Regions from separate parts of the Homo sapiens genome. Here region 2 is linked to region 1. The links come from fine-mapping of genetic effects on gene expression. Tissue or cell type: aorta. Region 1 holds a variant in brackets; the other region holds the start of a gene. All regions are shown on one strand. Distances are between the middles of the regions.

Evidence for each region. PIP is the estimated chance that this variant, and not a neighbour inherited with it, causes the effect.
Region 2: CCDC171 starts here. The variant in region 1 is fine-mapped to the expression of CCDC171 in aorta (GTEx, PIP above 0.99).

What each region holds. Positions count from the first base shown.
Region 1 is chr9:15,941,000-15,948,999 of GRCh38, reverse strand. All of the region lies in intron 25 of CCDC171 (coiled-coil domain containing 171), which reads right to left. Among named protein-coding and RNA genes, the nearest start is that of LINC03041, 330 kb to the left of the region's middle. The variant T/C (reference allele first, on the strand shown) is at 3,900.
Region 2 is chr9:15,547,981-15,556,124 of GRCh38, reverse strand. CCDC171 (coiled-coil domain containing 171) reads right to left here and starts at 3,082. Exons shown (of 26, transcript NM_173550.4): 1 at 2,823-3,082. RefSeq lists enhancers at 2,775-2,944, 2,840-3,485 and silencers at 3,225-3,314, 3,325-3,384.

The DNA.
Region 1 (8,000 bases):
CACTAAAATCAATTCGAGATGGATTAAAGACTTAAATGTTAGACCTAAAACCATAAAAACCAGAGAAGAAAACCTAGGCATTACCATTCAGGACATAGGCATGGGCAAGGACTTCATGTCTAAAACACCAAAAGCAATGGCAACCAAAGCCAAAATTGACAAATGGGATCTAATTAAACTAAAGAGCTTCTGCACAGCAAAAGAAACTACCATCAGAGTGAACAGGCAACCCACAAAATGGGAGAAAATCTTCGCAACCTACTCATCTGACAAAGGGCTAATATCCAGAATCTACAATGAACTCAAACAAATTTAAAAGAAAAAAACAACCCCATCAAAAAGGGGGCGAAGGACATGAACAGACACTACTCAAAAGAAGACATTTATGCAGCCAAAAAACACATGAAAAAATGCTCACCATCACTGGCCATCAGAGCAATGCAAATCAAAACCACAATGAGATATCATCTCACACCAGTTAGAATGGCAATCATTAAAAAGTCAGGAAACAACAGGTGCTGGAGAGGATGTGGAGAAATAGGAACACTTTTACACTGTTGGTGGGACTGTAAACTAGTTCTACCATTGTGGAAGTCAGTGTGGTGATTCCTCAGGGATCTAGAACTAGAAATACCATCTGACCCAGCCATCCCATTACTGGGTATATACCCAAAGGACTATAAATCATGCTGCTATAAAGACACATGCACACCTATGTTTATTGCGGCATTATTCACAATAGCAAAGACTTGGAACCAACCCAAATGTCCAACAACGATAGACTGGATTAAGAAAATGTGGCACATATGCACCATGGAATACTATGCAGCCATAAAAAATGATGAGTTCATGTCCTTTGTAGGGACATGGATGAAATTAGAAATCATCATTCTCAGTAAACTATCGCAAGAACAAAAAACCAAACACCACATATTCTCACTCATAGGTGGGAATTGAACAATGAGAACACATGGACACAGGAAGGGGAACATCACACTGTGGGGACTGTTGTGGGGTGGGGGCAGCGGGGAGGGATAGCATTGGGAGATATACCCAATGCTAGATGATGAGTTAGTGGGTGCAGCGCACCAGCATGGCACATGTATACATATGTAACTAACCTGCACATTGTGCACATGTACTCTAAAACCTAAATAATAATAAATTAAAAAAAAATAAAAAAATTAAAAAAAATATGGAAGCATACTTGTATGCCCATTATGAACCACTGGGAAAAAAAAATAGAATCACCAAATGATCCAGTAATTTCACTTCTGGGTATAACCCTGAAAGAATTGAAAGTAGGGTCTTGAAGAGATATTTGTATACCCACATTCGTAGGAACATTATTCACAATTGCTAAAACAAGGAAGTAACCCATGTCCATCAATGGATGACTGAATAAGCAGAATGTGCTATATACATACAATGGAATATTATTCAGCCCTACAAAAGAAGGAAATGCTGATATATGCTACTATGCTACAACATGTATTAACCTTGAGGACATTATGCTAAGTGAAATAGGCCATGCACGAAAAGACAAATACTGTAGAATTCTACTTATATGAAATACTTAGAGTCGTCAAAATAATAGAGAAAAAATAGAATGGTGATTGCCAGGATCTAGGGAGATGGGGGAAATGGGAAATTACTGTTTAATGGGTATACAAGTAGGGTATTTTAAAAGTGTATTTAGTGATGTCATAACATAAGCTTTTATCCATAAATTCCACAAACACCCTATAAGTTTTTAACGTCTATGAATGTTAAGGTCTCAGAATTTCTATGATATATATGCAACTATAATTTTCTAATAAATATATGTAGAAAGGGTTTATAACAATGGTGACACACATCACTTGTTCTTCCATTATCCAAATTCATATTATAGGTATTTGTTGTCTTTCTAAAATCCCAACTTAGTTTGACTTGTTAGAATCATGTTTTTTAGTTTCTAAATGAATGTAATTTTATTATCACAGATTCTTATGATACAATAAAACTGAGACAGATTAAAATGCTAATTGTACAACCTAAACAACAAAACCCTGTAATTCAGAAAAAAAGTGTTTATATATAAAAGTGCTATCTCCCCGTCATCAATAAGTCAAGCATTTAACAACATATCTTGAAACCTAACTAAACAACATTTACTTAGGCAGAGGTACAAAAATGCCCATCAAAAGGCATCTAATTCAAAACTATAAGAATTCTAGCTTTGTAGTATAGTTTGAAGTCAGGTAGTGTGATGCCTCCAGCTTTGTTCTTTTGGCTTAGGATTGACTTGGCGATGCAGGCTCTCTTTTGGTTCCATATGAACTTTAAAGTATTTTTTTCCAATTCTGTGAAGAAAGTCATTGGTAGCTTGATGGGGATGGCATTGAATGTAGAAATTACCTTGGGCAGTATGGCCATTTTCACGATATTGATTCTTCCTACCCATGAGCATGGAATGTTCTTCCATTTGTTTGTATCCTGTTTTATTTTGTTGAGCAGTGGTTTGTAGTTCTACTTGAAGAGGTCCTTCACGTCCCTTGTAAGGTGGATTCTTAGGTATTTTATTCTCTTTGAAGCAATTGTGAATGGGAGTTCACTCATGATTCGGCTCTCTGTTTGTCTGTTATTGGTGTATAAGAACGCTTGTGATTTTTGCACATTGATTTTGTATCCTGAGACTTTGCTGAAGTTGCTTATCAGCTTAAGGAGATTTTGGCTACAGTAACCAAAACAGCATGGTACTGGTACCAAAACTGAGATATAGATCAATGGAACAGAACAGAGCCCTCAGAAATAATGCCATATATCTACAACTATCTGATCTTTGACAAACCTGAGAAAAACAAGCAATGGGGAAAGGATTCCCTATTTAATAAATGATGCTGGGAAAACTGGCTAGCCATATGTAGAAAGCTGAAACTGGATCCCTTCCTTACACCTTATACTAAAATCAATTCAAGATGGATTAAAGACTTAAACGATAGACCTAAAACCATAAAAACCAGAGAAGAAAACCTAGGCATTACCATTCAGGACATAGGCATGGGCAAGGACTTCATGTCTAAAACACCAAAAGCAATGGCAACCAAAGGCAAAATTGACAAATGGGATCTAATTAAACTAAAGAGCTTCTGCACAGCAAAAGAAACTACCATCAGAGTGAACAGGCAACCCACAAAATGGGAGAAAATCTTCGCAACCTACACATCTGACAAAGGGCTAATATCCAGAATCTACAATGAACTCAAACAAATTTACAAGAAAAAAACAAACAACCCCATCAAAAAGGGGGTGAAGGACATGAACAGACACTACTCAAAAGAAGACATTTATGCAGCCAAAAAACACATGAAAAAATGCTCACCATCACTGGCCATCAGAGCAATGCAAATCAAAACCACAGTGAGATATCATCTCACACCAGTTAGAATGGCAATCATTAAAAAGTCAGGAAACAACAGGTGCTGGAGAGGATGTGGAGAAATAGGAACACTTTTACACTGTTGGTGGGACTGTAAACTAGTTCTACCATTGTGGAAGTCAGTGTGGCGATTCCTCAGGGATCTAGAACTAGAAATACCATCTGACCCAGCCATCCCATTACTGGGTATATACCCAAAGGACTATAAATCATGCTGCTATAAAGACACATGCACACCTATGTTTATTGCGGCATTATTCACAATAGCAAAGACTTGGAACCAACCCAAATGTCCAACAACGATAGACTGGATTAAGAAAATGTGGCACATATACACCATGGAATACTATGCAGCCATAAAAAATGATGAGTTCATGTCCTTTGTAGGGACATGGATGAAATTGGAAATCATCATTCTCAGTAAACTATCACAAGAACAAAAAACCAAACACCGCATATTCTCACTCATAGGTGGGAA[T/C]TGAACAATGAGAACACATGGACACAGGAAGGGGAACATCACACTCTGGGGACTGTTGTGGGGTGGGCGGGGGAGAGGGATAGCATTGGGAGATATACCTAATGCTAGATGACGAGTTAGTGGGTGCAGCGCACCAGCATGGCACATGTATACATATGTAACTAACCTGCATATTGTGCACATGTACCCTAAAACTTAAAGTATAATGATAAAAAAGAAAGAAAGAAAGAAAGAAAGAAAGAAAGAAAGAAAGAAAGAAAGAAAAAAGAAAGAAAAAGAATTCTAACCCAACTACCATGCTCTGCCTAGAATAAAGGAGTTACTTTGTGGCCTTGGTAGTTCCTTCCTACTTTGAAAACAAGTAAAAATTATGTCTATCCTCAATTGATTATAACATAAAGGAAATGGCATTAACAATAATAACAGGAACCTTACAGGCATCCTTTCATTTAAACCCGCATGCCTAGCTACTATGAATGGGCTCTTGAGCTGAACTGCCTGTGTTCAAATATTTGCTTCAATACGTAATAAGCAATACAGCATAATAAGAGTTCATAAAAATAATATATCCCCATAAGAGTGTTGTAAGTATTGAATACATTAACACATTTAAGGCCCTGACAATGTCTCACACATGGAAAGTATTAGATAAATGTTAGCTAATCCTTCTCCTCCTCCCCATCCTTTCCTTTTACAGCATTTTAGCAACCCTCTGGCTCAAAAACTATATATCGACAAGTCCTCTTCTGTTTCATGTTCACAGATTATGCCTTTACCTGAAAGATACTTTCCAGTGGTCACAAGAAGGCTTCAATAATTAAGTGTAGATGACTTTGGCCAAAAAGAAAAGCAATAGCCACAGTGGTTTACAAAAAGCCAGCACTCTCAGCTCTTTGGTTTAATAACTAGATGATGCTGAGAAAATCCCCCAACTTTTCTGAATCTTACAAATATCACGTTTATCACAAAAAAACCTGTAAGGGTATGTATATGGGTATATTTCAAAAATTGTAAAGAACTGCAGAAAGAAATAAAAACATCAACATTACTGCAAAAGAAAAAACAACACATAGTTTAACCTTACTCTCTTACAGGCTAGTGGCATCCTGTTTCGGTTCACATAGTTCTCCCTGCCTGGAATTCCTTGTTCAAGCCCTATCATTCCTTCAAAATCAAGCTCAAATACAACTTCTTAAAAATATTCCCTAACCATCTCATTTCAATAAATTTATCTTTTCAAACCCCATGAGCATTTATCACCTTATTGCACTACAGGAGTCTATCCTGACTCACCAACTGATTATAAGTTCCATCAAATCAGCAACTCTTCATTATGCCTTTTTGTATTCAATCCATGTGCAGATACAACTACCTTGCCTGCATAAAAGATGGGAAGAGAAAGAGCTCTAAAAGATTTTAGAACTCTTCAAAAGGGAAGATAATTTATTGATTGATTCAATAAACCTTCGTTGGGCACTTGGCAATGAGTCAGGTACAGTGTGGGTGCTGCTAAGGCTATAAGGTTAAATAATACACAATGTCTGACTTCGAGATCCCAAGCTTTGCAAAATCAAAAATATACTTAGACCTGCATCTGGTTCTAAATATACAAGTATTAATTCATTGCTATTATATGTTTAATTGTTAAATTATTTCATATCAATAACCTGATCTTTTTAAACATACAATGTTCCCACCATTTGCAGAAATAAAAGCAAGCACAATTTCTTATCATCCTGTCTAATGTACCCTATATGTGTCTCATAAGTTCTAAATCATAAATAAGTGTTTTTTTCTGGCACAGATCTAAAGAAAAAGTCTTTTGACATTTCCTTTTAAATATCTCTGCTCTTCTCATCCTTAAACTGATGAAAATACCACACTGCCACCATGCGAACTAGGATCACTGAATTAAATATATCAGTGACAATAAAGACAAAGCTGTTAACAATGCTGAGAAACACACATGTAATATAGAACCATTCTTATGTTGCCACAAACTTGATACGAAACACAAAATCTTCAAAGGGAAAAGTAACATCAAACAAAGCTGACAAGACAGCCAGCAGTTTAACTCAGGACCCATCTCCTTATACGGCTTGGTTTGGGTTCAGCAGTTAAAGCTCAGAGTTCAGAGCTATTCTCAGGTGGGCTGACATTCTTACCATCTGCCTCCTGAATTGCTTTGTTTCTTTTTCTTTTTTTTAAACTTACCATTCTACATTGCTATTAATATTGTAGGAGCATTTGGTCATAGTTTAAAATTTCTATAATACCCTATATCTTTCTCTATATTTCTTCTGGGAAAGCACAATAATTCAGTATTTTCTTCTTAAGGATATGGAATGTCAACACATAAGGACAATCTGTTGCAGAAATTATGATTCCTACTAAACTCAAAAACATATCCCAAAGCACTCTCTTTACCTGAACTTAGAACTTAAAAGAATATTTCTTCCATTCTTTGCATTATTTTTCAGCGCTACAGATTGTCTACTAGTATATTCCTCACCATTATTACTTATTTATTGTACTCCAGTAGTATGCTAGGCACTGAATAAGGTAAAAACAAGACACAATTCCTGATCTCAGGTGAACAATTCAAATACAACCCACACAACAGCAATTTCTCTCCTTTCCTTTCTCCTTCCCTTAAGAAAGGGGCAGGGAGACCACAGAAATATGACATTTTCAGTAATAATCTGACATACCAGACGACCTTATTAATAAAGAAATTCCGGACCCATAGAGACAGAAGACCAATTACAGCCATTGCTTTTTGATATCTGAACTTCCAAATAGGCTTATGAACTTTAACTTGATCCACATAATTTGGAATTTATAATGGAATTTTTAGCAAACTATTTGTTATCTACCAGTATTAGGTATCGTAGTGACATCTAGGAATAGAGCAATCTCCTACTCACATAGCACTTCTAGAATAGGATTAGTCAACTAAAAATCAATTGTAATATGATACAATTAATGTTATAATTATACAAGAGGATGTTTGGGGAGAGACTTGGGATTTAAAACTTGGGAAAAAATCAAGTAGGTGAAAGGCTGAAAATACTATTCCAAGCAAGAAATCAGCATATACATAAAGGCTCATGGGGGAGAGCATGGTATATTTAAAAAGAAAAAGAATTCAAATGTGGCTGAACATGTTAAAAAGCAATGTGGTCAATGTGTGCTTTTTTAAATAATAAAAACTGAATGTAAGTAAAAACAAACCAATTTAAAAAAACAATAGATAGGTAACCCTTTTAACTGGTAACCTTATGTTAGTTCTTTGCATTTTATGCTTAAAAATGAATTGTCTTCTTTTATATAATATTGAGTATGTTGTTTCTAAATGGCTAGTTAAAAGAGAGCATTTCAGGCTGCTACTGTCTAGCACTTCTTTCAAATTATATATTGTAGCACTTGATTTTCAATAAATGTACAGCCAATCTAAATAAAGTTATCACAATTCTCTCTTCTTAACACTGGCTTTGAAACATTAAAAATATCAAGCGTTGGTATAAGAATTTTGATCAGATGAATGGAACTTGTGGATCTGTTGAAGACTGAGGTAAATTTCCCTAATTATCTTTTTTAAGATTCCTTATTATCACTGAATTTCAAACTCAGTGTTTTTTTTAAGGTTTCCTATCTATTCAATGGTATATTATGGGTGCAAATTAAATGTGAATAACAATAAAAACAAGTTTAAACTGAAAATGGTTAAGATTACAATAGTGTCCAGAAGTGTTAAACAAAGTAATAAGTTAACCAAGTATTGAATCGCTACCGGCGAGCTCCATTAACCAATACACTAACTTTCTATGCATTCCTGACTGCCAAATATTCAATTTCAAAGGTGAAAAACTTTAAATATTTAAATACTCATTTTGTTTGTTATTCTAAAAAATAGAAACTGAAACATATGCTATTACTGTTGTTAATGATCTGAATCCTCTGCAATAGTCTGCCGGCTGGGTGAGGTAACACTTAGGTGGCACAAGGCCCTGAGAGGGACACCTTTAAGTGGCATGGAAGGCTATGACAGAAATAATAATAATAAAGTGAATGAGAAAACACTTGTTTAGTACCAGAAGG
Region 2 (8,144 bases), 390 kb after region 1:
TCACCATAGCAAACACTTGGAACCAACCCAAATGTCCATCAATGATAGACTGGATTAAGAAAATGTGGCACATATACACCATGGAATACTATGTAGCCATAAAAAAGGATGAGTTCATGTCCTTTGTAGGGAGATGGATAAAGCTAGAAACCATCATTCTGAGCAAAATATCGCAAGGACAGAAAACCAAACACCGCATGTTCTCACTCTTAGGTAGGAATTGAACAACGAGAATACTTGGACACAGGGTGGGGAACATCACACACCGGGGCCTGGCAGAGAGTGGGGGAAGGTGGGAGGTATAGCATTAGGAGATATACTTAATGTAAATGACGAGTTAACAGGTGCAGCACACCAACATGGCACATGTATGCATATGTAACAAACCTGCACATTGTGCACATGTACTCTATAACTTAAAGTATAATAATAAAAGAAATAAAAATAGATACTCAGTCACTTGACTAAAGTCACATCTCTCACATCTCTAGTGACAGGGTCAGGATTTACACCCAAGTTAGCTGACTCCAGAGCTCTGCTGTGTGCCTTGCTATTGGCCCTCAAGACACAGTTCATCCCAGTCAGGGAAGCATGTAAGACCTCACTTATCAGGGAAGCATTTCTGCTCTTTGCTGGAGATTTCTTAAAAATATCATTTTTCCCCGTATCGAAACTGACAAGCCATGGCCTTCTCAACAAAAGATTACTCAGACCTTCAGTCGATTCTCAATCCAGATAGCACCTTCACAGTTCTGGACCAAAACCAGGCCATCCTGTAGCAGTAATAGATAAAGAAAGGCAAGGTTCAAATTAGCTTTTTATGTTAATGTATTAATAGATTAATCTTTTTTTGATAGTGGAGTTGAACTAATCTCACCATTCCTACTAAAATAGATGATGGGATATTATGTGTATCATTCATCAATGAGAAGCATTTTTAAAAATAGATAAAAGGGTAATTGAGGCCAAGGGATCAGTGATCCCGACATCCTGAGAGGAGGTGCCAGCCAGAAAGGCGAATCTACTTTAGATTTCGGAGCCACTACTGGTAAAAAATTTTTCTACCTTACATCTGAGTCCTTCAGTTGGTCATCCCAAATGCACTCATCTTTCAGTGTGTCTGCACAGATCAGAGGAAAAACGAGGGATGGGTGGATGAAAAAATAGAAATTCCTATTATTGAGCCACTTACTATATGCCAGATACTGAGATCAGCATTCCTGATCTCATTTAATCCCAACATCTCTATGAGATTATGCACATTTCACAGATAAGAAAACTGAGGCTTGGAGATGTTGAATAATTTGTGTAAAAATATTCAGCCGGAAAATGAGAATTCAAATCCACATCTGGCTAAGTCCATCCTCTTTCACTACGCAGTGCTGTCTTCATTAGTAACCACACCTGTGTTGGAAGTGTTTCTCAGCATAGGTACATAATCAACCTTTAAAGGGGAAGTTTGGTTCTTACATCAAAACAAGACCAAGACCAAGGGACTGAGACAACCAAAACGTTTTAGAATCAAATGAGACTTTAGAGACTAAGTCCTTCCTCCTTATCTGACAGATAAAGAACCTAACGCCTAGGAAGGTTAGGTGGTTTGCCTGTGGGGACGCAGCTCATAAATGGCTGAGCCCCAAGACTAACACAGAAAGCTACAAACTAAGACTATGCCCTTCATCTTTCCTCTTAGCAGGTTGCACTGCCTTTGTTTCCTCTGCATTTTATGAAAAACCATGTTCATCTTCTGCTCTACCACTGTTTTGTTGAGAGTAGGAACTAACAGTTAAATAAAATAAGTGACATGCCGGGCGCAGTGGCTCACGCCTGTAATCCCAGCACTTTGGGAGGCCGAGGCGGGCGGATCACGATGTCAGGAGATCGAGACCATCCTGGCTAACACAGTGAAACCCCGTCTCCACTAAAAATACAAAAAAATTAGCCGGGCGTGGCGGCGTGCGCCGGTTGTCCCGGCTGCTGGGGAGGCTGAGACAGGAGAATGGCGTGAACCCGGGAGGCGGAGCTTGCAGTGAGCCGAGATCGCGCCACTGCACTCCAGCCTGGGTGACAGAGCAAGACTCCATCTCAAAAAAAAAAAAAAGTGACAAAATCGTATGTTCTTTTCTCCAATATTATGAAAACCATAAAACATCGGTATGTCATGTATTCAAAAGAGCTGGACACCAACTCTAATAAACAAAATAAAGACGTATTTATCTCATTTACCTAAAATGTATACATGAAATATGTATTTTCTTAGGATCAATATCATAATGGAATAAAAAAATTCAAAAAGTCGGCTCCATTTCTGCAGAAAATTTACAGCTTCGGGAAAACGCACAGCTGACTCAGATTCTAAGTCTCTCAGAGTCCTGGAGGGTAGGTAGAAGCTGCAGGTGACAGTCTAGCACAACTCATTCCCGTTTATCAAACATCTGTAGAGTGTCTAGTGTGTGGCCGGCATTTAAAAAGGGGAGAGCGGGCTGAAAGACGTGGTCCCTATCCTCGAGGGGCTTACTGATTCTCGGGAACGAAAGCGCTCCGCAGCAGTAACCCTAAGAAGCTCCAAATCCCGGTCCTCTGCCTCCCCTCTGGTCCCCATCCGGCGCTCTGGTACAGCCTCAGCGATCTCTGGCTAGGATGCTCCACGGAGATCTTCCTCCAGGTGGGCGGGGAGACCCAGCCCAGGGAGCTGGAGGCGTGCCCCAAAGCCTACGCCAACAGCCCCAGGGCCGCCCCAAACTCACTCAGGGGCCCCTACAACCCTCTCAACACCTCCCTCCCAAGTCGTCCGCCTCGAAGCCCCCACACCGTGCGGTTACCTCAGGGGTCTCGCGTGATCCGTGCTGCACACCCAAGACCCCAGGGGCCGCTCCAAGTCTCACGGGTGAAAGGAGGCCCAGGCAGCCCACGGGAATAAGAGCAAAAACTGTTGGAACACGACGGACTCCAGGACCCGGGAGGAGGGGGACAAACAGCAAAGGGGTACAGAAGGGGAAGAGCCCCCGGGAGGTGAAGTTTACAACTGCCACTTCCGGAGCTGAAAACACTCCGCTTCTCTCGCAGACCTTCCCAGACTTTCACAGGTCAGCCCAACTCAGGCCCGGCCCCACTTTTTCCTCCCGCCTCCCGCAGCCCTCAGCTTGCAGCTCCTGGATACGTACTCCGAGAACGCTGGCTCGGATTGGAAGAGCCCGCCCGCCAAGCAGCGCGCCTTCGCTGAGGGACGAACGGGCGCATGCGCCGTTGCTGGGGAGCGGCGGGCTCGCGACCGCACGCGCTCTCGCTCCAGGAGCTCCGCGTCCCCGCGCGGGGGTGCGCCCTGCCCACGCGCTGCTGTGGCTTTTCAGCGTGAGGTGTCCGCGTTCCTGTCTCAGTCGCCAGAGCCGAGTGGAAATGCAGATTTCCAGCTTCTAACCCCTTTTCCCTGCCTGCTGAATAAAAACCTAAGAGGTCGGATCCCAGATCCTGCTTTTTGAAACTGGTTCTTCTGCCCATCTTTAGAGCCACAGCAACGGTGGGCTGGTCCCGGGGCCTGGGGAGAAATTCTCTGGGCTCGGGTTCTGCCCAACTGCCTGGTTTACCTCTGTCTGGACAGCTCTCTGCCTGCACAGGGCATCCTGTCCCCTCTTCCCGTCCCCATTGTATCCCAGCTGGGAGTGGTGAGCAGGGTCGGAAGAATGCATTGATGCTGCTTGCAGTGCGTTTCATTATCAACATTACGTAACCAGGCACATCGTGGAAAACGCCTCGGAGCCTTAGCATGTGTGTTCCCTATCTCTTTCCTCGCTTCTCTCACTTTTCTCTGACACACACACACACACACACACACACACACACACACACACACACACCGTCCTCTTATTGATAATTTATACTTTGGTTCCTCCCGGTGGCTGCTTCACAATCTGCTGCCGCCTAAGGGAGACTGGAAAACCAACTCCTCTTTTGTTCCTTAACTTTTGAAAGCCTATTCTTCCAGAGAACAATGCAAATTGACAGGATTTGGTCAAAGATTTTTATCTTCACCACCACCACCTCCTCTGCACAAAAAGGTGTTTAATGCAAAACGAGCCTTCTATACTAAACTGGGTCCTTGTTGATTGTAATCAACCTGAAACCAGGTGTAGGGGCCGTCTTTTCTCTCTCCCATGGGAGAGCCAACGGTCATAAATGCAAACACAAATTGAGATTAAAACCTCCTTGATTCTTGTAGCACTGAAACCTTAATTGGTTTGATTTTAGTCATTTACATCTAAAACGGAGGCCTGTCCCTGATTCTTTTTACTAGAGCCATAAAGAGGACAATTGCTCCAGAGGAAATAAAGGGAAAAAATAGCCCACTCTAAAGTTTAGAAATGAAATGGAAAATTACAACTGACTAATGAGATTAGAACTTTTATGTTACAAGCTTTAAAAAATATTTTTAAATTTTATTTTTTTCTTTTTCTTTTTTTTTTTTTTTTTTTTGAAACAGGGTTGTTCTCTGTTGCCCAGGCTAGAGTACAGCGGCACAATCACGCCTCGCTGCAGCCTAGACCTTCAGGACTCAAGCCATCCTCCTGCCTCAGCCTCCTGAGTAGCTGGAACTACTTAAAATTTCATTTGTGTTGGCCGGGCGCGGTGGCTCACGTCTGTAATCCCAGCACTTTGGGAGGCCGAGGTGGGCGGATCATGAGGTCAGGGGACCGAGACCATCCTGGCTGACACGGTGAAACCCTGTCTCTACTAAAAATACAAAAAAAATTAGCTGGGCGTGGTGGCGGGCGCCTGTAGTCCCAGCTACTCGGGAGGCTGAGGCAGGAGAATGGCGTGAACCCGGGTGGTGGAGCTTGCAGTGAGCCGAGATTGCGTCACTGCACTCCAGCCTGGGCGACAGAGCGCGACTCCGTCTCAAAAAAAAAAAAAAAAAAATTATTTGTGTTTTAACAAAGTCACAAAAGTGAATATTGTATCGCAAGAATAAATGCTATGTACTATATTGTATGTTTTTGAAATGAAAAATGGATGTGATGTGAAGACCCGTTTTCATTTATTTGTTCATTCAGCATTTACAGAATACAGACTATGTACCCAACATGGAGCTAGATGATAGAAATACAGGGGAATATTGATATCAACCCTGAGCTCCCAGAAATGATTCATAGAAAAGAACTTTGAGCTTAGTTTAAGAAGACCGTTAAAGATTTATGAAGCTAACAAGGAACTAGAAGGAAGACACGGAAGCTGCAAACACCAGCATAAGAACCAGCACCAGACATTTGAAAAGCTGGAAAAAGCTGTCTGTGCAAAGGAGGTGTGAGCGATGAGGCTAGAGAAATATGCAGAACCCAGATCACAGAGGAATTTCTACATCATACTTAGGAGTTTATCAAGCAATGAAGCTAATGAAGGGTTTTAAGCAGAAAAAATATAAAAATTACACAATAAATCAGACCATTTCAAAATGCGTGGAGATTCTCTGTTGTCTTTTATTTGCTTAACATGCTACTACTACTTGAAAAAAGCTATATAAAGAGATGTTCTCCTACCCGCTTATCTTTTGGCCTCAACATCACTTCATTTCTCTCTCTTCTTTCTACCAATCCTTTTGAGATATGATTAGATTCATTCATTCACACCACTCTACCAATAGCTTCCAAAGTCAGTAGTGACCTCATTGCCAAATCTGAGACCCCTTGACTTTGCTGACACATGTTGATCCTCAGATGCCTCTCCAGCAAAGGTGAGACTCTATACTCCATTGTTTCTCCAACTCTCTGAACTTTCTGCTGCTGCTCAGGAAACCATTCTTCCCTTCCTGCCCCTCAAAGTGATATTTTCTCAGTTTCTGCCCTCAACCTTCCCATCGTTTGTACCAGATAAGCGTCCTCAGTGATGTCATCCATTCCTGCAAGTATGAACTCCATATCCCCAATATTCAACTCTTTATATCCATCTCTGACCTCTCCTGAGCTCTAGTTTTGAATTTTTAACCCCGGTTTGAACAGTGCCACTCTAATTTCTGGAAATACTTAATTTAATATAACTAAATTTTAATTATCTTTCTAACTTCTTGTGGGAATCCTCTAAACTACTCTCCCACCTGTTTATAAAACTTCTAATCTCCTAGACACCCAGGCAAGAAAAACCCTAAAAATTTTGTTTGCGTCTTTCTCTCTCAAACTCTCACTTCCTGCATGCAGGATTCCTACTTTTTCTCTAAACCTCATGTCTTCTTTCTGTGCCTACTTAGTACTAAGCAACTTCATTTGTCTGTTTCCTTATTGCTTCCTATTGAGACACTCATAATTAGGACCTTCCTTGTGGCCCAATGCAAGTCACTCACCTTCCCCTTCTGTGCAAATTCTTGACATTTTTAGAAGTTGACCATTAACATCTAGGGCATTTTTAAACTGGCATATATAAGAAGAGAGGATCAAAAAAATAGAAAAAAATCAAAAGCAGGTCTAAGAACACCTGTATCTTTATGAAACTAGGGGAGTGTAATAAACTGATTGTACGTATGTGAGCCTCAGAGTTTTAAAGCACCAGATGAACCACATTCTTTTGACCCTTCTGTAACCTCCCCTAGAAGGTTTAAATACCAGGTTTTGATTATTATTTTTTTTAATTATACTTTAAGTTCTGGGGTACATGTGCAGAATGTGCAGGTTTGTTACATAGCTATACATGTGCCATGGTGGTTTGCTGCACCCATCAACCCGTCATCTACATTAGGTATTTTTCCTAATGCTATCCCTCCCCTAGTCTCCCACCCCCCACCCCCCACCCCACAGCTTCTTGATTATTATGCTGCCTTGGTATCAATTCGTAGAACTGAAAGGCCTTGCCATAATTGTTGCTCTCAGTGGCTCTGGTCCTATGCTCCTTCTATATGCTAAAACGGAAATATCCTTCTAAAGCATAACTCTGATTATGTTACTATACTGATTATTTCTTTTGGTGGCCCCTCAATTGCTGCCTGGATAAAACCCAGATTTTCTGCTGTCAGTCAAGGGCCCTAATCTCCCTACCCGCCTTTCCAGACTTGCTTTTTCTGACCTTGCAATAAATCTTCCTTCTCATTCTTACATTAGCAAAAGAAAACACAAAATGTTTGGGAATAAATGTAATAAGAGGTAGGCATGGGCTTGTGTTAAAAGTATTAAGATACATAGGTTAATATACAAGATTTAAATCCAGATAATATTATTTTGTGTTTGTTTTTTAAATTTATATGTTTTTTATTTTCAGAGACAGGGTTTCATTATGTTGCCTAGGCTGATCTCAAGTGATCCGCCCACCTTGGCCTCCCAAAGTGCTGGGATTATAGGTGTGAACCACCACTCTTAGCCAAATAACATTATTAAACATGTAATATGTGCCAAGCACTATACTAAGGGGTTTCACATTTGCTATGGTTTGAATGTGTCCCCCAAATTACAATGACTTCTAATTCTAAGCATTAAAGTGAAAGGAAGACACACCTAAAGCTAGAAATGATTAGCTTAGTGAGGAAGGCATGTCAAAATCCGAGACAGGCTGAGAGCTAGGCCTCTTGCGCCAAATGGTAGCCAAGGTATTAATGCACAGGAAAAATTCTTGAAGGAAATTAGGCCAGGTGTGGTGGCTCAAGCCTGTAATCCCAGCACTTTGGGAGGCTGAGGCAGGGGAATGCCAGCACTTTGGGAGGCTAAAATGGGAGGCAAGGAATTTGAGTCTAGCCTTGGTGACAGGATGAGACTCCAGTGGACACACAAATTATAAGAACGTGAAACAGCCTTATTAGTGATATGAAGAAAGTTGTAGTGTCTAGGTAGAAGATCAAACCAGCAACACTCCCTGAATTAGGCCAAAGCTTAATTCAGAGTAAGACCCAAACTCTCTTAAATTCTGCGAAGGCTGAGAGAGGTGAAGAAGCTGCAGAAGAAAAGTTGGAAGCTAGCAGAAATTGGTTCATAAGTTTTAAAGAAAGAAGCCTTCTTTGTAACATTCAAGTGCAAAGTAAACCAACAAGTGCTGATGTAGCAGCTGCAACAAGTTATCCAGAAGATGTAGCTAAGATCATTGATGATGACTATTCTGAACAACAGATTTACAATGTACAGAAAACAGCCTTCTATCGGAAGATGATCCCTACAGAAGTGAAGTGAATGCCTGGC